Linked DNA regions of Homo sapiens. The protein of the gene in region 1 interacts with the protein of each later gene in a biochemical or structural test. Each region holds a gene or a part of one and is shown in the gene's direction. Other genes may lie near its edges.

The links.
Region 2: the proteins of ESR1 (region 1) and ARNT form a complex in vitro, tested with the Homo sapiens proteins (2 studies listed by BioGRID).
Region 3: the proteins of ESR1 (region 1) and PHB2 form a complex in vitro, tested with the Homo sapiens proteins (3 studies listed by BioGRID).

The regions. Positions count from the first base shown.
Region 1 is NC_000006.12:151,838,679-151,845,811, forward strand, and holds part of ESR1 (estrogen receptor), read left to right. Parts: intron 1-3,918; coding exon 3,919-4,109; coding exon of another isoform or gene 4,110-4,115; intron 4,116-7,133.
Region 2 is NC_000001.11:150,873,503-150,881,125, reverse strand, and holds the start of ARNT (aryl hydrocarbon receptor nuclear translocator), read left to right. Parts: upstream 1-4,526; 5' UTR 4,527-4,558; coding exon 4,559-4,583; intron 4,584-7,623. UniProt on the Homo sapiens protein: Required for activity of the AHR. Upon ligand binding, AHR translocates into the nucleus, where it heterodimerizes with ARNT and induces transcription by binding to xenobiotic response elements (XRE).
Region 3 is NC_000012.12:6,967,568-6,975,491, reverse strand, and holds the start of PHB2 (prohibitin-2), read left to right. Parts: upstream 1-4,827; 5' UTR 4,828-4,948; coding exon 4,949-5,075; intron 5,076-5,211; coding exon 5,212-5,296; intron 5,297-5,914; coding exon 5,915-5,994; intron 5,995-6,896; coding exon 6,897-7,081; intron 7,082-7,470; coding exon 7,471-7,600; intron 7,601-7,712; coding exon 7,713-7,816; intron 7,817-7,885; exon of another isoform or gene 7,886-7,924. Other genes in the region: EMG1 (ribosomal RNA small subunit methyltransferase NEP1), read right to left, coding at 114-263, 344-402, 799-940, 1,052-1,153, 4,401-4,568.

The DNA.
Region 1 (7,133 bases):
CTTTATGGAGTAAGTCTGGGCCAAAATGATAATTGACAATGTTATTTACATGGATTTCTAAGTTGGCTAAAAAAGTTCCTTTATGGTTAGTGAATATAGCCCATGTAGTTTCCCCGTCTTCTTTAGATGCCTTCTATTTCTATGCCCAAAGTCTGCAGTTGATTTTCAGTAAGCTGGGGGTCATCTTAGAGATAAAATGTAGATGAATGGCATTTTGCTGACAGCATACATCTTTGCTATTTCTGAGGAAAATGGGCTCTCGCTATTAAATCTTTTGTCAATATTTATAAAAATAGTATTTACATATTCTATCTATATTGTGGAAACTATACATTTATTGATTCAGTCATTTGATATCAATGTTGTTGAGTCCCTATTCCAAGTGAGGCACTATGCTCTAAGCACATGGCATTTTAAAGATGAATAAGACACCAAGAACTTTGCAGATAGTAATGGAAATGAGAATTAATCAATTGAAGATTAATATAGTAAGTAGCAGAAGAGAAATAAAAAAATCTTCTAGAGAGTTCAGAACAGGGATGTTGATTCAAGTTTATGGGGATTAGGAGTGGCTGGTAAGGGAGGCATTCAGGCAAAAGACATAAAAATGCAGTATTCCCCTCGCACTCATTAGGATGGCTACTATATTAGAAAAAGAAGAGAGTAAGTGTTGGAGAGGATATAGAGCAAATAGAAACCTTGTGCCTTGTTCATGAGAATGTAAAATGGTGCAGCCACTGTGGAAAACACTGGTGATTCCTCAAAAAATCAAAATAGAATTATCATATGATCCAGTAATTCTACTTCTGGGTATATATCTAAAAGAATTAAAAATCTGGGTCTTGAAGAAATATTTGTATACTCATAGTTATAGCAACATTATTCATAATAGCCAAAAAGTAGAAGCAATCCAGATGTCTATAGATGGATGAATGGGTAAACAAAGTCTGTGTAGTATATACAGACAATGGCATATTAGTCACATCATGGACCTTCAGGACATTATCCTAAGTGAAATATGCTAGACACAAAAAGCAAAAGTAGGGTTTCACTTAATGAGGTATCTAGAATTGCCACATTCACAGAGAACAAAAGTAGATTGGTGGCTGCTAGGGGATAGGGGAAGGAGAAAATGGGGAATTATTGTTGAATGGGTATGGAGTTTCAGTTTTGTGAAATGAAAATGTTCTGAAGACTGGTTGCACGATGATGTGAGTATATCTAACATGATTGAATTGATGAACACTTAAGCGTGGTTACGATGGTAAATTTTGTGTTATATATATCTTACCACAATTTAAAAAATATAGCATTTTATTATGTAGGCGTGGGTGGGAAGATACTTGACACATTGGAACTTCTGGCCATGCGTATACTGTTCACTCACTTATTCCTTCATTCATTCAACAAACATGTATTGAATGCTTGCTATGTGCTGGGCACTGAGCTAGATATAACAATTAATAAGGCTTATAAGACATTGAATCTATCAATTTCATGCTTGCTAAATATCTACTCCCACCTCCAAAGGCACTAAGCTTCTACAGTTAGATATTCATAGCTGCTTCCTACTGACTTGAATCATGCATAGGATATTAGTAAACAAGCAATAAAAAGATTTGAGGTTGATGGGGGTGGGTTCAACAGCATGGTGGTGAAATGGAAAGAGATGGGTAACAGAATATGAACTAGAATTGAAAACTGTGAGCCAGTGCTCTCTAATGAACATTAAAAAATAAAGAATTCCTATTTGAGGCTGCCAACCTCAGAACTAAGTTATTTAGAATGGACGAAATTGGCAAAGTCAGACGTACTCAACCCAAGGAGCCAATATTTTGTGAATATTATGGCAAATGTAGTTTGAGAACCACTACCACAAAATTGTGAACCATAATAATGACTGAGAAGGCAGGGAGAGGTTATACAATTTGGGCTAAAAGGAAAGACAGGGCTTGTGAAGGGGAGCGCCAGTGAAAGTCAGTGTGGTTCGGGTATTTGGGTGGGGACTGGAAGCAGGAAGCTTGAGCTTCCTTTGCCAAGAGACCCTGCTGGAAGGGCTATCATCAATTGACTTTAGCTCATCTTAGGATTTTCATTTTTTAAAAAATGTTCACAGGAACCTTCACTCCATCTATACTTTCAATGTCTGCCTACCTTTCTTTCTTATACAACTTTGAACACTCTCTCCATTCATTTAAATATATTATGGAGTGCCAACTACATGCCAGGTACTGTGCTGGGCTCTTATTCCACCTTTATTTGATTGCACATGCCTGCCAAGTCCTGGGCCAATATAACATCTACTCCTATGTCTGGTCTGGCGAGAGATGCAAACTCATCTTCCTCTACTTTCCTTACCTCCTTCCTTCCAGTCTTCTTCAAGTTGTCTTCATTGAGGCAATTTCTTTTACCTGTGTTTTTAATCCCAACTCCTCTAGTTTCCTTCTTGGCTTTATTCTTTTATCTTCCTCTTTGTGCTTTCAAACATTCCCTTTCTCCTGGCCCATGCCCTTCAGTCTACACGAGGCCTTCTCAAGTCTCTTCATTCTAAAAAATTCATTTTCTTGGGTCTTATATTCTTCAGCTGCCACCCTATCTGTATCTTTTCCTATTCTCCTCCAAGTTCTCAAAGGAATGCCTTCCCTCATTTTCATCTCCTTACATTCCATCTGCTGAATTTTGGCTTGTGCCTGTACCTGTCTAAGGAAACTCCTTGCTAAGAGTCTGCTTTGTCAGGTCTGAATTCACTTAACCAGTCTTTGCTTTGTTGGACTTCTCTGCCCCATTTGCCATTCTTGATCATCCTCTCCATAAACCTTTCTACTTAAAGCATTTTACTTCCTTATTTTCTTGGTTTTCCTAGAATCTCCTTACTGTTCATTTTCAGCTTCCTTTCTGTGTTCCTCTTCTCTTCCTACATTTTTTTTTAGCTTTCTACTTTCTTAAAGCATTTTACTTCCTTATTTTCTTGGTTTTCCTAGAATTTTCTTACTGTTCATTTTCAGTTTCCTTTCTGTGTTCCTCTGATTGTCTCTCTTTCTACATTTTTTTTTTCTGTGTTCCTCTGATTTTCACGCAGTCTGGAGTTGTCATGATCAATCATAGCCTACTGCAGCCTCGACATCCTAGGCTCAAGTGATTCTCCCACCTCAGCCTTACAAGTAGCTAGGACTACAGTCACACATCACCATTCTCAGCTAATTTTTTTAAGAAGCATTTTTATAGAGATGGAGTCTTGCTATATTGTGCAGGCTGGGCTCAAACTACAGGGCTTAAACAATTCTCCTGCTTTGGCCTCCCAAAGTGCTGGGATTCCAGGCATGAACCACCATGCTCAGTCTCTACATGTTCCTAAAGAGGAGTTTTGAATATTGAAGAACAGTATTTTCAAATTACATTATTCAAGTTATAAAAACTGATATCCAGGGTTATGTGGCAATGACGTAAAAATTTGAATTGTTATTTTTTTGACACATGTTCTGTGTTGTCCATCAGTTCATCTGAGTTCCAAATGTCCCAGCTGTTTTATGCTTTGTCTCTGTTTCCCAGAGACCCTGAGTGTGGTCTAGAGTTGGGATGAGCATTGGTCTCTAATGGTTCTGAAATAATTGTATATTCCTGCAAAAACATTAAGTCTATTAGAAACCAGCTAATTTCATTTTGTCATTTTTATAGGTAACATATTCTGGTGCAGGTAGTATGTTTTTAAAACAAGTTTGCAATAAACAATTTCCCCTCAAGGTTAATATAATAGGCAACACCTTTTGCTGCAACAGACGGCAAGAGGTAATGAAAGATTAGCTTACATTATGATTCATTATTTCAAAATGTCAGGATAAAGTGGATCTGCTGCATCTCCCAGAGAGTGCATGTTTTGCTTTTCTAATGTTAATGGATTTACTGTTTTTTTCCCCCCAGGCCAAATTCAGATAATCGACGCCAGGGTGGCAGAGAAAGATTGGCCAGTACCAATGACAAGGGAAGTATGGCTATGGAATCTGCCAAGGAGACTCGCTACTGTGCAGTGTGCAATGACTATGCTTCAGGCTACCATTATGGAGTCTGGTCCTGTGAGGGCTGCAAGGCCTTCTTCAAGAGAAGTATTCAAGGTAATAGTGTGTTGAAAACGACTTCTATTTTTGATCCTATGAGCAGATCCTAAGAGCCAAAGCGACTGAGGAAGGAAGACATAGAATCAGCCATTTGTACAAAACATGAATCCCTAGTAGGTCCACTAGTATCTTTGGTAGAAACATGGAGAAGAGACAGGATCTCAGGAGAAGGAGTTGACACATGGCAGGGCAGCTGAGGCTGAGTAATTCCGCTTCCTTCCTTTGGCAAGACTCAATCAGTCTTGAGCAACTCTACAGAAGAATTCCACTAGCTGGATCTCTGAGGAAAAAAGAAATGTTGTCTGTGCCCTGACTGGGGAATGCCAGATGGACATTCATGTTTGGTAGGCAACTTTGCCTATATGATCTGGTATATGCTGTTAATTGTCCATGCATAATTATCTCTCTACTCAGGCCTTGTCCAGGCAAATATTCTGTTTTGTTCTAGTTTAGCTTGTTCTCCCCTTTCTCTCTTCCATCTCTTTCTTGTCTCAATGGATGACAGGATATTTTGCTATGAGCTGACTCAGTGGTTGGTGTCTTGTAATGGGGAGATATCATCTTTATCAAACAGTTATTAAGTATCTACCTGTAGCATTTCATTTTCCCGCCTGCCTCCATTGTTTTCTTGTCTATAGTTTGCCAATTATAGCTAATATACGGAGAGCTATACTTTATTTCTACTCCAGAAATGTCTCTATTATTGCATTATAATAGGATACCCTGGGGAAACACTAATCATTTTTACTACCTAAAATACCTATGCTGAATATCCTTTATCTGATAGGAACAGAGATCTGACAGCAGCTTAGGCTAACCAAATTCATTTTTTATCTTAAGTGTGGGGCATTTTTCTCTCTTCTTATTCTTTACCTTTTCAGCTTAAGTGAAGGTTAGTATAAACACTAAGAATATTTCTGATGGAGTTTTCATGTGATTCCTTCTACAAAAACCCAGATTTAAGTAACTTGTTGAAAACCAGAGTCCGCTAAGTTAATAAACACTGATTGAAGAAGTGATTCTCATGGACTTTCTGTGATAGCTCTTTCCTGCCCTGATATGAGATGAAAGCTGGGGGATGGTATATAGTATTTATTTTTCCTTCCGTTGCCAGTGGGACTTTTTTTTTTTTTTTAAAAGCTGTTCATATCTTAATCGAGTAGCATGTGAGGTCAACATGGTCTATTTTAAAAGCATTTTCTTCGACACATTGCTTTTAACATCTTTTAGAACTCTGCTGTGAGACACATGGACTTTTTTGTTGGTATTTTTATACAATTAATGATATTCTCAATAGTAATCTTTGTGTGTGTATATATATAGAAATAAATTCTAAATGTAAGTTAATATATTTATTATTTTTCTAAACATATATAAATATATATATGCACACAGGCTATTTAATTTTATTAGATGATGCTATTTTAATTCAGAAAAAAATGACATTTATATTTTGATTTAGGTTAGTATAAGCCCTTAGAGGTGTTTTGACAACTCTCTTAATTTGTGGTTTTACTGTTTATTTGATTTTATATAATCTAAAATACCATTGTTTTTACCAAGCATTTAATTTGGCAGTGAAAGAGCGTCTGACAGAGGTATGGTTAGTAGATAGGTCTAACTGCACAACTGGATGGATTGAGCTGAGACTGTTTCCTCATCAGTAAAAATGATTTGAAGCAGTGGTTGGCAAAGTTTTTCTGTAAAGGGCCAGATAATAATATTTTAGGCTTTACAAGGGCCATGCAGTCTCTGTTGCAGCTACCGAACTGGATTATAGCCTGTAAGGTGACCTGTAAACACATGGAAGTGATTATGTGCTAATAAAACTTTATTTATCAGAATAGGTAACAGATCAGCCCTGGCCCGTGGCCGATCCCTGATTTAATGTTTATTTATCTGATCTAAATACCTTTATTTATGGAAGGGAATAGGGGATTTTTAAATCTAAAGTTTTGATTATTCACATTTTACTGAGAACTTACTCTATACCTGATTAGATGTTCCGAGAGAAATAAAAAAAAAGTGTAAGACATAATCCATAATACCACAAAATTTAAAATGTATTTAGGAAATTTATTTGAGGAAGTAAATGTACTTGTTCTCATGATACAATCAGAAAGTAAGTCAGTATTGATAAAGTGTTACCTGTATGAGAAAGATAAGGAAAACAATAGAGAGATGTAAGAAATGAAAATACCAGTTATAAATTAAAATTATTAAGATTGAAAGTGGAAATGATCTTCCTCCGAGAAACAATGGCAATATTCTCACAAATTTTTTACATCATTTTTGTTCAGCATTTAAGATAAAATTATATAAATTCCCATAACATTTAGTATTGTCTCTAAGCATTAAGAACAGAAAAAACAGAAGGAAAATATATTTCTAAAAATCAACGAATACAGTGTGAGATGTTTCATTGGTATGGCATTATCTCAAGTTCAAACATTTTGAAAAATGTCTGCTTACTCTTTGATAGTTAAAAACAAGTATCTCAGCTGGCGTGGTGGCTCAGGCCTGTAACCCCAGCAGTTTGGGAGGCTGAGGCGAGTGGATCACAAGGTCAGGAGATCGAGACCATCCTGGCCAACATGGTGAAACCCCATCTCTACTAAAAATATGAAAATTAGCTGAGCGTGGTGGTGCACACCTGTAGTCCCAGCTACTTGGGAGGCTGAGGCAGGATAATTGCTTGAACCTGGGAGGCAGAGGTTGCAGTGAGCTGAGATCATGCCACTGCCGTCCAGCCTGGTGACAGAGTGAGACTCCATCTCAAAAAACAAACAAAACAACACCACCACCACTAACAAAAACCTCTTATCGCCGTCTTGTATACGCAGACCAGCTAGTAGAATTTTACTGAAACAGTAGCCTATAAAAATGCAATTCCACTTGGTTTCAGAAACTTCTTGTGTATCATAGTGTGAAGTCACTTATCTTAGGCTTTTAAAATGGGATAAATATTGAGTCCAAAGTTCTGGAAGAAGCCTAGAAAGAAGGCAGAGTTATTAACTTTTA
Region 2 (7,623 bases), on another chromosome or scaffold:
GGCCAGGAGTTCGAGGTTCCAGTGAGCAATGATGGTGCCACTGCACTCTAGCCTGGGTGAAAGAGTGAGACTCTATCTCTAAAACAAAAACAAAACTCCAAACCATGACATTTAGAAGTTAAAGTAATATGTTCATGTTAATGAAAATATTGCTCAGATGAACCATTTGAGAAACCTACTTAAATCCTACTTAAAATAATAAAAATGGTTTATGTTAGTATTATCTATATCATAAAGAAGAGATTTTCACTTCAATCCTTATTAAAAACTGACAGCATTTCCCCCCCTTACTGGCCTCCATACTTAACTGTGGAGAAAGCACCAATTTATCTGTTTCTTCTCAAAGATTGTGCTCACTGGATGATATTTTACTACATTTATGGTTTGTGCTAATTTGTTCAATGTCGAATCAAAATCAGGAGAAATTTTTTTTTTAGAAATGAGGCCTTGCTATGTTTCCCAGGTTGGCCTCAAACTCCTGGGCTCAAGTGATCGTCCCTCCTCAGCCTCTAGATTAGCTAGGACTACAGGCATGCACCATTGAGCCTGGCTGGGAGAAATATATTTTGGCTATGAACTGTTTTCTGAATAAAATGGAAAGTGGGCTGGGCATGGCGGCTCATGCCTGTAATCCCAGCACTTTGGAAGGCCGAGGTGGGTGGATTGTCTGAGCTCAGGAGTTGGAGACCAGCCTGGGCAACATGGTGAAACCTCATCTCTAATAAAAGCACAAAAAAATTAGCGGGGCAGTGGTGACGGGCGCCTGTAATTCCAGCTACTGAGGAGGCAGAGGCAGGAGAATAGCTTGAACTTGGGAGGCAGAGGTTGCAGTGAGCCATCATGGCACTGCACTCCAGCCTGAGCAACAGAGTGAGATTCTGTCTAAAAAAAAAAAGGAAATAAAAAGGAAAGTGGACTGACATCTTTTTTGTAGGAACAGTGTTCTTTCTGCATCCAAAGTTATAACTCCATCAGTGTTTTTTTGTTTGTTTGTTTGTTTGTGTTTTTTTTGCGACAGAGTCTTGCTCTGTTACCAAGGCTGGAGCGCAGTGGCATGATCTCGGCTCACTGCAACCTCCGCCTCCCAGGTTCAAGTGATTCTCGTGCTTCAGCCTCCCGAGTAGCTGGGATTACAGGCATGTGTCACCATGCCAGACTAATTTTCGTATTTTTAGTAGAGATGGGGTTTCGCCATGTTGACCAGGCTGGTCTCAAACTCCTGGGTCCAAGTGATCCGCCTGTCTTGGCCTCCCAAAGTGCTGGGATTACAGCCGTGAGCCACCATGCCTGGCCTGTAACTCCATCAGTTTTGATCCCAAGATATCTTTTTCAGACTGACTCATACCTCACAAAATAATTCTTATCTAAATGAAAAATGTTTTCTTTTGTATCTTGAATTTTTAATGATAAACCAGACAGGAAGTTTCTGGGCATTTCTCCTTATGTATTGCCTATATGCTGTAAGCGGATTCATATTGTGTATATCAGTGGTTTCTACGCTTAAAACAAACATCTGGTAGCAGGTACAGGGCAGATATTGCCATTTCATGTTGTGTATCATGACTCCATGTGATATTTGACAAAGAATTCTGCCAATAGCTTTGTTACACTTTTTTTTTTTTTTTTTTTTTTTTAGATTGAGTCTCGCTCTGTCACCCAGGCTGGAGTGCAGTGGCCCAATCGATCCCAGCTCACTGCAACCTCCACCTTCCAGGTTCAAGCGACTCTCCTGCCTCAGCCTCCTGAGTAGCTAGGACTACAGGCGTGTGCCAACACGCCCAGCTCATTTTTGTATTTTTAGTAGAGATGGGGTTTCACCATATTGGCCAGGCTGGTCTTGAACTTCTGATCTCAGATGATCCTCCTGCCTTGACCTCCCAAAGTGCTGGAATTACAGGCGTGAGCCACTGCACCCAGCCAGCTTTGTTGCACTGTCTCCAAACAGAATATGTTATTAACTTTGTAGCTAGTTGTGTAAGCAGCTCTATAACAAAATGATTTCTACCAATTTTTTTCTACAGAAATGTAACTTGATCTCTTTTAACCACAAAATGTATCCACATCATACAGGAAAACATTTTGCATTTATTCTGGAAAAATCCATTTTACTTGGTAAAGAAGCTACAGCATTTTTTTTTTTTTTTTTTTGAGATGGAGTCTTGCTCTGTCGCCCAGGCTGGAGTGCAGGGGCACCTCGGTTCACTGCAACCTCTGCCTCCCAGGTTCAAGCGATTCTCCTGCCTCAGCCACCGGAGTAGCTGGGATTACAGGCACGCGGCACCATGCCCGGCTAATTTTTGTATTTTTAGTAAAGATGGGGTTTCACCATGTTGGCCAGGCTGGTCTCGAACACCTGACTTTGTGATCCGCCCTCCTTGGCCTCCCAAAGTGCTGGGATTACAGCCACCCCGCCCAGCCCAGCCAATGTATTTCTTTTGGGTGGATGATTTTTTTCTTTTTGGTGACTTATAAATATAACAACAAAATGAAAGAAAAATGAAATTTTAACAGATGTAAACAATAATATGTAAATTATGTTAAAATACCTTTGCAGTAAACTAAATAAGTGGATCAATGTAATCTGCGCAGTACATATACAACTTCTAAGAATGCAAAGCTGTTCAATAGCATAATGGGATTTTTGTTAAAATTTTAATTAAATTTGTATTAAACATTTTGTGAGCGATACATGAAAATGGAAGTACTTTGTAGTGCTAAAATTGTAGTGCTAAAATAGGGGGATGGGTGGAACAGGTTTCCAGTGTCAGACTCCTTTAGTTTGCCTCCCACATTACTTACCTGCTGGATGTCCCTTGCTTACCCTCTTTGTTTCTGTTTCCTTAATTGCAAAATGGAAATAGCAGTAGAACCTACCTCATCGTTGTTGTGAGGATTAAATGAGTAAATACATATAAAGCATTTTGGACAGTGCCTACCTCGAATAGCTCAATGCTTCCTATTACCAGGAAACAAAAATTAGCCGGGCGTGGTGGTGCGCGCCTGTAATCCCAGCTACTCAGGAGGCTGAGGCAGGATAACTGCTTGAACCCGGGAGGGAGAGGTTGCAGTGAGCCAAGATCGCACCACTGCACTCCAGCCTGGGTGATGGAGCAAGACTCCGTCTCAGAAAAAAATAAAGAAAAAAGAAAATAAATCTGCACAGCCATCATCTTATTGATTCCCTATTAAAAACTCCTCACTGGCCAGGTGTGGTGGCTCACGCCTGTAATCCCAACAGTTTGTGAGACCGAGGCGGGCAGATTGCCTGATGTCAGGAGTTCGAGACCAGCCTGGCCAACGTCGTGAAACTCCATCTCTACTAAAAATACAAAAAACATTAGCCAGGCGTGTGGCGTGCGCCTGTAATCCCAGCTACTCAGGAGACTGAGGCAGGGGAATTGCTTGAACCGGGGAGGTGGAGGTTGCAGTGAGCCGAGATTGCGCCACTGCACTCCAGCCTGGGCGACAGAGAGAGACTCTGTCTCAAAAACAGACAAACAAAACTCCTCACTCTGTCCCTGTCACTGACCAAAGAAGTTACCCATTCTCAAATTACTTTCTTCATCTATTGCCTCCAATTTTGGCTGGCAATATCTCCCATACCAAACCGTTAACACCTGGATCCTTTTAGACTACCGGTTCCATAGCAGGCATTCAAAAGTTAGTCATTTAACTTTTTCACCAGGGACAAAAGTCCTTAAAAGAGGAAAAAAACTGGAAAGGATTACAAATCACCATGTGATGTTTAGGTGCTCTTTAGCACCTAAAGAGGATTTACAAGATACATTGTCTGCACGGCAACCACTCAGACGAATCCACCACCAAGCGAAGGTTTTTAGTAAAATATCCTTTTTTTTTTTTTTGAGACGGAGTTTCGCTCTTGTTGCCCAGACTGGCGTGCAGTGGCGCTATCTCGGCTCACTGCAACCTCTGCCTCCCAGGTTCAAGCGATTCTCCTGCCTCAGCCTCCCAAGAAGCTGGGATTACAGGCATGCGCCACCACGCCCGGCTAATTTTGTATTTTTAGTAGAGACGGGGTTTCGCCATGTTGGCCAGGCTGGTTTCGAACCCCTGGCCACAGGTGATCCGGCCGCCTCGGCCTCCCAAAGTGCTGGGATTACAGACGCGAGCCACCGCGCCCAGCCTAAAATACCCATTTTAATTGCATTTCAATGACGTTACTCGGTCATTGACCTCTTACGCAAGGAGGGCGAGATTAGGGAGACAGCTGGACTTCTTCCTCGCCCTCCCTTCACTGGACTGGCTGGCGCAGTGAGTAGCCCTGCCCTTGGACGATTTGGCATTTTCATTGGTCAATTTTTCTTAGGAGGCTGGCCGTGTGTTGACTCCGCCTACTATATAGGCGGGGTCTCCCCGCCGCAGGGGCTGGGATGCTGGGGGCTGCTGAAGCCGCCATCTTGGATTCCGCGGTAGCGGAGGCGGCGGTCAGGCGCCGCTTCTGGGGAGTGGCCTTTCTTTTCCCCTCCCTCCCGGTTCGGTGGCGGCGGCTCCTCCCACTGGGGGGGGGGGTGGCGCGGCGGCGGTGGCATCTGCGGCCATGGCGGCGACTACTGCCAACCCCGGTGAGGAGACGGAGGACTGGGGCGCCTCTAAAGGGGAGGGGCCGAAGGGGCTGACAACTAAGGAGACCCAGGGCTGAGGGGACGCAGCTGGAGCTGAAGGCGCCGGGGCGGGGCGGGGGCCGCGAGAGACGGTGGGGGAGCGGTGACCTGGGGAGGGGCCCGATCCCGGGGACTTGGGTAGACTCGAGTATACCCAAGGGAGCGAGGGGGCAGGTGGGAGTTGAGGGGGGCTCCCTGTCCTGACCTCCGTTGGAGCGGCAGCCAGTGCGGGGCTGGCCCGCCCTCACTCCTCGGTCGGCGTCTGGTCTGTGATGTGGTCCTCTTTTAACCCTCTGCCCGCTGGAGCCGCTTGATGCCGAAAACTGTAGGCAGAGTGTCTCGGTTTACTTTAAGAGTAGTTTGGATTCATAAACCCTGGACCACACTGCTCTTTAGTTGAGGCGTTGCTTCCAAACATTTAAAGGTTTAGATTTTAATTTAAAAAATAAAAAATGGACATTCTTTGATATATACGACGTTTCTTTAGGCTGTTACCTCCCACCCGCAACCCCCGTCCCCGTCTCCGTCCCCGGACTATACTTTGAAACTTAGATCTTGTGTTAAGAGGGCCTGTAGGTCTTTGCCTGCTGAGGGCAGGGGTTTGTGTAATGGTTATGGTTCCGGACAGGTCTTTAGTTCCACAGCCCCAGGTTTAAATCTTGTTAGGCCTACGTCGAGGCAATTTCCAAACTCTTTCAGAAAAGTTTGATTCCACACCATTTCTCAATTTCAAAAAATAATCAAATATCAAAAAGGTTTGGTCTGTTTTGTCTAAGAGATGGAGTAGGGTGTAGTGCAGTTCTAGAGAGATCAGATCTTCAAATTACTAGTCCCAGCCCTCTTTCCTCTATGTTACAGTTATTCCTCTTTAGAAGGCATTTCATTTTAGGGGTCTAGTTTATCTTGGAGACCTTGGTTATTCTTGCCAAATAAAGTCTATCCTTTTCCAAAAACCAATATATTTGATAGCCTTAAAAAGGGCCTTGAGATATGTGTGTGTGTTGCGTGGGGCGGAGAATTTCTTGAAAATAAAACAGTAGGAGTGATTACCCCCATCCCCACGTTGAAATTTAAATTAGATTTTTTTTCATGTTACTGAAAGGCAGTATGATTTTGCAATATCCAGATTTTGATAGGACAGTTGAATCACTGAAATTTCTTTTCTACCGTGTTTCTGGGAATAGCTATTTTAAGAAATGGTTAATTTGTCACGTCATTTTTTTTTAATCTTTTAAATTTTTTTTGAAGGAAAGGGAGGTAAAATTAATCGCAAAAATTACATTGCAGGAAGTGCTGAGTGATAGAATAAAACTATAAAACAGGAAAAATGCCGTTATGTCAAACCTGACCTTGTAGTAATATAACCTATCTGTGAACTATGGAATAAATAAACAAGATTTTTAACTGATCACACATTGCAAAATACTTATATAACCCTAGTTAAATTGCAAAGCATTTCTCTTATTAAGAAGTGGCCTGGGTAAACAAGTTTTAGTTCATATGTCAGAAGCTTTTTTCCAGCTGTGTGGGTGGGGTTGCTTTATTTTGTTTTGTTTTTTGAACAACAGCAACCAGAATGACAGCCTCTTGACCATATTTTCATAAGCTGATCAATATCAGCTTAAATCTTAGCAGAAAATAGCATATGTTAGTGTGTATGTGTGTGTGCAGAATCCTTGTTAATGAAACAGCTTTGTTTACTATGCTTTGGCTGCTTGCTTCTGCAATTTTTAGATTTCCTTTTTCTTTTTCTTTGTTTTCCTTTCTCCTCTCCCCTCTCTCCTGTCCCCTCTCCCCTCTTTTTCTTTTGCTACAGGGTCTTGCTCCTTGCTCTGTCGCCCAGTCTGGAGTGCAGTGGCAAGATCACTGCTCACGGCAGCCTCCACCTCAGGGGCTCAAGTGATCCTCTCACGATCAGCCTCCCGAATAGCTGGGACTACAGGTGCCTTGCCACCATGCGCGGTTAATTTTTAAATTTTTTTGTAGAGACAGATGCCTTGCTATGTTGCCCATGCTGATCTTGATCTCCTGGTCTCAAGCAAGCCTTGCCTCAGTCTCTCCAAGTTGGGAATACAGATGTGAGACACTTTGACCAGATTTCTTTTTTGATGTTGAAAAATTATTCCATCTCTTCTGACTTATTGATCCCATGTTCAGTTCAATCAAATCAGAAGATATATTTTCTTTTTTCTTTTCTCCCTTTGCTCTTGTATATCATGAGGAAGAGATCAGAGATACATTGTGGATTTTTTCAGTAGCCTGTTGCTTTTTGGGAAATGAGATTAATGAATGGAGGGACATAGGTGGAAATGTACTGTGCTTAGTGAAAGTAAATGTTTTCAGGTCAGAATTCTTTGCTACACTGTCATACCTTCTTTCCTTAGAGCCATTTTAAGGACTAGGGACACCATGCCTATTTCTTTGAGTTTTTTCTACTTTGTATTTTTGCTGGAGTACTAATTTTTTTTTTTTTTTTTTTTTTTTTACAATTCTTGTTAGTTTTGTCAAGATTTTAAAAAATATTTCACTCTTTAACCTTCACTTCAGTTAATCCTTTTTAAAAATAATACTTATTTTTATTTTTCAGACAGGTTCTTGCTCTGTCTCCCAGACTGTAGTGCAATGGTGTAATCACAGCTCACTGTAGCCTTGAACTCCTGAGCTCAAGTGATCTTCCCACCTCAGCCTCCTGAGTATCTGGGTCTACAGACACACACCACCACACCTGGATACATTTTTTAACTTTTTGTAGAAATGGGATCTTGCTATGTTGCCCAGGCTGATCTTGAACTCCTGTCCTCAAGCAATCCTCCCACCTTAGCCTCCTAAACTGCTGGGATTATAGGTGTGAGCCACTGACCCGGCCAAGTTAATCCTTAGGGTTAGTAATAGTGCTTGAACATGTTAATTGTGCTGGTGGCCCTGCAGTGTTTTTCAAGGGGACCACGTTCTTCTGCATTTTTCACTGTGGTGCTGCATTAGAAGAAGAGTAAAATATGGT
Region 3 (7,924 bases), on another chromosome or scaffold:
ACTGTCATGTGTCTTCTAGCTCATTGTAAGCATTGTTAAAATGCCTACTGCTCTGGGAATTCTATACTAAGTTCAGCTCTACCAAGAATTTCAGGGTTGAGCCCAGACCTTACCTTGCCATGGGCAAAGGCCCCTACCACAAAAACAATAGGATCACTGCTGGGCACCAGCTCACGCACATCACTGACAACCGGGATGGAAAAAGAAGTGCCAACTTTCATACATCCAACTGGAAAGTGATCTGATACTGGATTCTTAATTACCTAAAGTAAAAAAGAGAGAAAAGTCAGCCCCAGAAACATTCCCAGAACCAGCCTTCAACTAACAGGTTTCAATACCTCACCTTCAAAAGCTTCTGGGGGCCATCAGCTGCTCGAACACTGAGCTTGTGTAAAAGTTGAACTAGAAGGGGGAAAAAAGAGTTCAGAGCTAGATGGAGACCACAGTCCTTCTGTCCAGTCATCGAACAAGGAAAACCCCATGGATAAGATGAGTTCCCTGTGTGCTTTATATCTAGACTGGACTCCTGAAATGTTAGGAACAAACAGTTGCCAAGCATATGGCTAGCTGTACAGTGATGGGTTCAGACTCCCTCTTTCACTCAGCCAGGAAGCTACTGCAAGAACAGGAGTGGAGTTTCCACAAACATAGAAAAATAATAACAGTCCTTGTCCTGGTATTAATCATGTTGTTCTCCCATTTTCTCGCTTAAAAATCCACATTTAGTTCTCCCTTTTCCTCTTCCTCCCTTCTTCCCTACTGACAAGTTCATTCTAACTTTGTTCTAAGGCTTCTTACCCATGAGGCCACAAAAGCGGTCAAAGGTTCTGGGAATTCGGGTCTGGGGATTCACTTCAATCAGAACATTCTTCTGTGTATGGATATAAACCTGTAGCAAGCCAGCTCGGTTCAGGGGACTATCCATCAGCATCAGCAAACTCTGAGCAAAGCAGAAACCGAGACATGGTTAAGGCTGAAGAGAGGCAGCACTCAGCTGCCAACCCTTCCATACAGAGGCTCAAAGGGTTGTGAGCACTGTCCCTGGAGTTACCTGGTGGGTGATATCTGGCCGCGCTTCCCCAGGGTCCCGTCCATTCTTCAACAATATAGACTTGTGCTTGTCACAGTTGAGTAGCTCATATGTCTTCCCTACCTGAAGAACAGGGAACATGACGAGAGAACAGCATAAGCTTCTGTTACCTAGCCCCGTGGTTCTTCAAGTGTGGTCCCCAAACTACCAGCAGCAGCTGCACCTGGAAACTTGTTAGGCAAATTCTCAGGCCCACCCTAGACCTACTAAACCAGGAACACTGGGGGTGGAGCCCAGCAAGCCCTTCGGGGGATTACTGTGCAGCCTTATTTGCACTCCCCAGTGAATGGTCTGAGAGGGAAACAGGAGGAAGGGCACAACCTGTGACTTCACATTATCTACTAATACACTGGATTTAATTAAAAAACCTGTGGCTGTTAGGCAAGGCCAATGAGACATCCTGGAACTAGGCAGGAGTTAGTAGTTAGCAAGGCTGAATGCTGTGTTTATTACAGGAGCAGTAAGTAGGTACTGTGCAAAATATCGAGTCACCACCCTCAGTTTGCGTACACCAAACATGCACTAAGTGAAGAGCTGCAAATCTGAACAAGAAATGTGAAGGCCGGGCGTGGTGGCTCACGCCTGTAATCCCAGCACTTTGGGAGGCCGAGGCGGGCAGATCACAAGGTCAGGAGATTGAGACCATCGTGGCTAACACGGTGAAACCCCATCTCTACTAAAAATATAAAAAATTAGCCGGGCATGGTGGCAGGCGCCTGTAGTCCCAGCTACTTGGGAGGCAGAGGCAGGAGAATGGCATGAACCCAGGAGGCGGAGCTTGCAGCGCCACTGCACTCCAGCCCGGGCAACAGAGCGAGACTCCATCTCAAAAAAAAGAAATGTGAAAACTAATGATGCAGGAGGCAGTTTAATCAAAGAAAACTCTCAGAAGTAAAAGGAAGAGGGGTTATTCCCAGTTTTAAGACGGGCATGGGGGCAGATGCAGTGGCTCACGGCTGTAATCCCAGCACTCTGGGAGGCCAAGGCAGGCAAATCACTTAAGGTCAGGAGTTCAAGACCAGCCTGGGCAACATGGCGAAACCCCATCTCTACTAAAAATACAAAAATTAGCTGGGCATGGTGGCACATGCCTGTAGTCCTAGCTACTTGGGAGGCTAAGGTGGGAGGATGGCTTGAGCCCAGGAGACAGAGATTGCAGTGAGCCAAGACTGTACCACTGCACTCCAGCAAGACCCTGTCTCAAAAAAAAGAAAAAAGAAAGACTGGCATGAGCAAAGGTACAGATGGAATCAAGACAAAGTAGCCAGGTGTGGTGGCTTATGCCTGTGATCCCAACACTTTAGGAGGCCGAGGTGGAAGGATCACTTGAGCCCAGGAATTTGAGACCGGCCTGGGCAACACGGTGGGACCCTGTCTCACAAAAAAAAAAAAAAAAATTAGCCAGGCGCAGTGCCATTTGCTGGCAGTCCCAGTTACTCAGGAGGATGAGGTGGGAGGACTGCTTGAGCCAGGGAAGTAGAGGCTGCAGTGAACCATCACACCACTGCACTCTGTTGCCCAGGCAACAGAGCAAGACCCTATCTCAAAAAAGAAACAAAAAAGAAAAAGTGGAAACGAAGAAAGGAAATTTTGAGGAAAATTGGGAGCTGAGACACTAAAGGGCAGTGATTATATATGAAGCTGCTTTGTAAACCACAGAATCCTAATGTATCAAGCACAAAGCCAAAAATAATTCTGGAGTAAGCAGGGCAGGATGGGAATGACTGACAGACACTATCCTAACAACTCTCTGTACACTGGAAAAGACATCAGAAGTTTGATGTTAAAGAAGTGGACTACATCTGTAGCAGCTAAAAGAAATAATTCCAAGTTGCAATTTGGAGTCCCAAGGAGCATTAGGGTGGTCAGTAAAAAGTCTAAAAACAAACTGTTATATACAAATACAAGTTTTGGAAGGTTAAGTTTTTATGTATCACTGGAATGTATATGTCTAGCAACATTCTTGAGATATATGGCTCCAAAAAGTCTGCGAAAAAAGGGATGTAGATTTTGAAATTGAATAGTTGAAGTAATGTCACAGAGAGCACAAAGAACAAATGACCAAGAACTAAGTCCATGAGACACCCTTAGTTATAGAAGAAAAAAACCTTCTTGAATGAATAATACAGTTTCAACCCATTAGTAGGATATAATCATGTTTTCTATTCTTTTAATAGATTACAGGCGCAGGCCTGTAATCCCAGCTACTCTGGAGGCTGAGGCAGGAGAATCGATTGAACCCGGGAGGCGGAGGCTGCAGTGAGCCAAGATCGTGCCACTGCACTCCAGCCTGGTAGAGACTGAGACTCCATCTCAAAAAAAAAAAAAAAAAAAAGTGTATTTAGAACGAAGATTAAAATCCTGGCCTGACTTCTAAACCAATGCGATTTCTTCTGGGCCTATTCAATTAGTTCTAACGGGTAAGAGAAAGGAGGAGGAAGAACACTGCCCAAGGCTTTAAGATAGAGAACTGCTGGTTCTATTACATGTGGGGAAAGAGATGAATGATAGATAAAAATGCAGATGTAAAAGTTTTAAATAATAACCAGGTCTGGACAGTGTATCATAGGTGGATATTAGAGAGAGGTGACTATGGATACTAATGAATTGAAACACGAAGCCCTTACAAAAAGTGTGGGCAGACTAGGCTACATAACTACGTTTCTCATCTGCCCAGTAACTTGTCTTGGGATGTGGAATGACGCAAGGAACGAAACTTTCCTCTGCTTAGACTACTATACCACAGAATCCTGGTAAACCAATTGGAAGCAAGGAGGTGAGGGCTAGAATATCATTCAAAAAGAGCAAAAGAAAATGAGTACTACCGGCCGGGCACAGTGGCTCACGCCTCTAATCCCAACACTTTGGGAGGCCGAGGCGGGCGGATCACTTGAGGTCAGGAGTTCGAGACCAGCGTGGCCAACATGGTGAAACCCCATCTGAACTAAAAATACAAAAAAATTAGCCGGGCGTGGTGGCACCTGCCTGTAGTCCCAGCTACTCCAGAGGCTGAGTCAGGAGAACTGTTTGAAGGCGGGAGGCAGAAGTTGCAGTGAGCCGAGGTCGCGCAACTGCACTCCAGCCTGGGCGACAGAGCGAGACTCCGTCTCAAAAAAAAAAAAAAAAAGAAAGAAAAATGAGTACTACCATCCCAGGATGTCAAATCAACGCAAAGCCAACCAAGCCACCTTCCTTCAAAAGCATCTTTCACCCCTCTCTGCTTTCTACATCCACTCTGGGCCCCTTACCCTCATTCCACGGAGTCCCAACCTATCGATTTACTACTTCTCCACTTCCTGTCCCAAACTACCTTGACTGTCTCCAGACTGGCCCCTTCCAGCACCACAATAAGCCTACGGCCTCCGATCTTGTTTCCTGCCCCTAGTCGGGGCCGCTTGGGTGGCAGAGCATCCCAGTCCTGTGCCTGCTCCCCACCGCTTCGTTCACGAGGCTTGAATCCATCACTGGGCGCGGCCATCTTGCAACAATACCGGAAGTTGCGCTAACGCTCTTAAATAAGAACAGCGCGGCTTCTAATCACAAATTTCCTTCCGGCTGCCATTTTGAAAGTGGGCCAGGAAATGGAGATGACTTGCTGTCTTGCGCTGCCCTCCCTGGGAGGGCAGCCTTCCAGAAAGGGGCGGGACTTCCGTATGCGCGATTCCTGTGCGCGAAGTTCGGGTCCGTAGTGGGCTAAGGGGGAGGGTTTCAAAGGGAGCGCACTTCCGCTGCCCTTTCTTTCGCCAGCCTTACGGGCCCGAACCCTCGTGTGAAGGGTGCAGTACCTAAGCCGGAGCGGGGTAGAGGCGGGCCGGCACCCCCTTCTGACCTCCAGTGCCGCCGGCCTCAAGATCAGACATGGCCCAGAACTTGAAGGACTTGGCGGGACGGCTGCCCGCCGGGCCCCGGGGCATGGGCACGGCCCTGAAGCTGTTGCTGGGGGCCGGCGCCGTGGCCTACGGTGTGCGCGAATCTGTGTTCACCGGTGAGCAACCTCCGCCTGCTCGCCGGACGCTTCCAGTCCCTCCCCCAAACCCCTTGCCCTGTCCCCGCGCCCCTCCACGGGCCTAGCATTTCCTCTGAGCAGCGGCCTGGCCTGATCACCACCCATCTCCCCACAGTGGAAGGCGGGCACAGAGCCATCTTCTTCAATCGGATCGGTGGAGTGCAGCAGGACACTATCCTGGCCGAGGGCCTTCACTTCAGGTAATGGCGGGCAGAGCCTGCTGACCCTGACCTTTCACCCTTGACGCCGACCCAGCAGTGGCTATAGTCGGACGTGCAACAGGATTCAACGCTGCTCTTTTCCCACCCTCCTCATCCCTGCCCCTAGGATAGTGGGTGCTGCGAGAACCTCCAGCAGCATACAAACTGTTGTTTTCCAGAGGGACAAGAGAATCTCTCCTTGTCTGTGGTCGTGGAGAGGAGCAGGCCAAAAAACGCGTGGTGAGGGGAAACCGGGCAAGGCTAGTGAAACTGCGGCCTTTTCTTTTTTTTTTTTTGGAGAGGGAGTCTTGCTCTGTCGCCCAGGCTGGAGTGCAGTGGCGCGATCTCGGCTCACTGCAACCTCCGCCTCCTGATTTCAAGCGATTCTCCTGCCTCAGCCTCACGAGTAGCTGGGATTACAGGCGCCCGCCACCACGCCCGGCTAATTTTTGTATTTTAGTAGAGACGGGGTTTCACTATGTAGATCAAGCTGGTCTCGAACTCCTGACCTCAAATGATCCGCCCGCCTCGGCCTCCCAAAGTGCTGGGATTACAGGCGTGAGCCACCGCGCCCGGCCGAAACTGTGGCCTCTTAATACCTATCCCTGTCCTCTCCAGGATCCCTTGGTTCCAGTACCCCATTATCTATGACATTCGGGCCAGACCTCGAAAAATCTCCTCCCCTACAGGCTCCAAAGGTAGGTCTGAGCACTTGGTAATCACATGGCAGGTGGGATGATCAAGGTAGCTGGCAAGAAACCCCAGGGGAATATGGTAGTGTCAGGCCTTTAGGCCTCTTTCCACATCTGCAAGAGCTGTAACAAAAATACCTGCCTCCTGGGGTCAAAGCAGCAAATTCTGAACACACTGTGTTTGCGTGCTTTTTACTGTCTCCTCCCTGACGTGTATTCAATAAGAGTATTGTTTGTCCCTCGTCTTGTTCACTGCCTAGATCAAAGCTTTGTTTTAAAGCCTTTTTTTTCTAACTGCTTGACTTACTATATCTACAGTTACATCCACTAGTACACTCTGTTCTGGAGAAGTTTGTCCCTAAGCTTGACTAGTTCACCTGTTCTCTCCTTCTAGACCATACATAAAAGCCGTGCCTTTGAGTTCCCCAGACCTCTTCCTCCTCCCCACCCACGCACACATATACACCCTGGGTCAGGTAGCTCACCTGTAACCTGTAATGTACTTCTTTGTGCTATACCTAGTGCAGGTCGCTTATTCATTTACTAGACTGGGCCCTGGGAATAAAAGATTCATTAAACACAATTCTTGTCCCCCAAGTCCTTACAGGAGACATGATTACGGTACAGCACGAAAGCGCCCACGTTAGAGGTTGCACAGAGTACAGAGGGGGAAAGAGTAGTCAGCTCTGCTGGTGACGGGGTTTGCAGTTCAAGGCTTCACAGTGGGTGAGGGTGCATTTCAGCTGTGCTGCGTCTTGTCTTCCTTGTCAGCCTGATTAACTCTCCTCCCCCCAGGGTAGTGCCAGGCTGTACACCATTGCACAGGGCATACAGGGAGGAACATGAAGGAGAAAATGCTTGGGAAAGGGTGTTTGGCCTTGACCAGCCACTGCTGACCTCAATCTCAGACCTACAGATGGTGAATATCTCCCTGCGAGTGTTGTCTCGACCCAATGCTCAGGAGCTTCCTAGCATGTACCAGCGCCTAGGGCTGGACTACGAGGAACGAGTGTTGCCGTCCATTGTCAACGAGGTGCTCAAGAGTGTGGTGGCCAAGTTCAATGCCTCACAGCTGATCACCCAGCGGGCCCAGGTCTGACTCCCACCACCATCTGCGTGGTGTCAGCCTTTCCTTCCTAGGCCCAGAGTATTGGGAATTAGGAAAGGCAGCTTATTAGAAAAGCATTGTCACCCTAGTGCCATTTCCACCTAAAAGCTGTGCTAATTGCCACTGTGAAATAAGGAGAGCCAGCATTAGAACTCGATAGCACTCGGTGTTAGGAAGCACAGAGGAAAATGGCCAAGTCTTGGCTTTTCCTGCACCTCTTCGAGCAGAGAGGCTTATGTTACAGGTTTGCCTGACAGGAAGCTAAGGCAGTGCATGTTGTATTGAGAGTGAAGGGTTAGGGGTCGCAACCTTCCTTTCAGCTCCCCAGTCCCCTCAAACCACCCCTCCCTTCCCCTCTTCACCCCTGCCCTCAGGTATCCCTGTTGATCCGCCGGGAGCTGACAGAGAGGGCCAAGGACTTCAGCCTCATCCTGGATGATGTGGCCATCACAGAGCTGAGCTTTAGCCGAGAGTACACAGCTGCTGTAGAAGCCAAACAAGTGGGTGAGTCGCAAGAGCCGTGGGGTGAGGGCTTCTGAGATGCAGGAGGAGGAAAGACTCCATGGGTGGGGCTCCTGACCCAGGACAGGGTCTCCCTGACTCTCTCCCACCACAGCCCAGCAGGAGGCCCAGCGGGCCCAATTCTTGGTAGAAAAAGCAAAGCAGGAACAGCGGCAGAAAATTGTGCAGGCCGAGGGTGAGGCCGAGGCTGCCAAGATGATATCCTTCTGCTGGAGAGATCTCAGCCCAGCCCCTAGGGCACCTGAGTTCCCCATTCTCCTTCATGGGCAGGCTGATGAGACTAAGGCGAATGCGACTCCGTGCTCT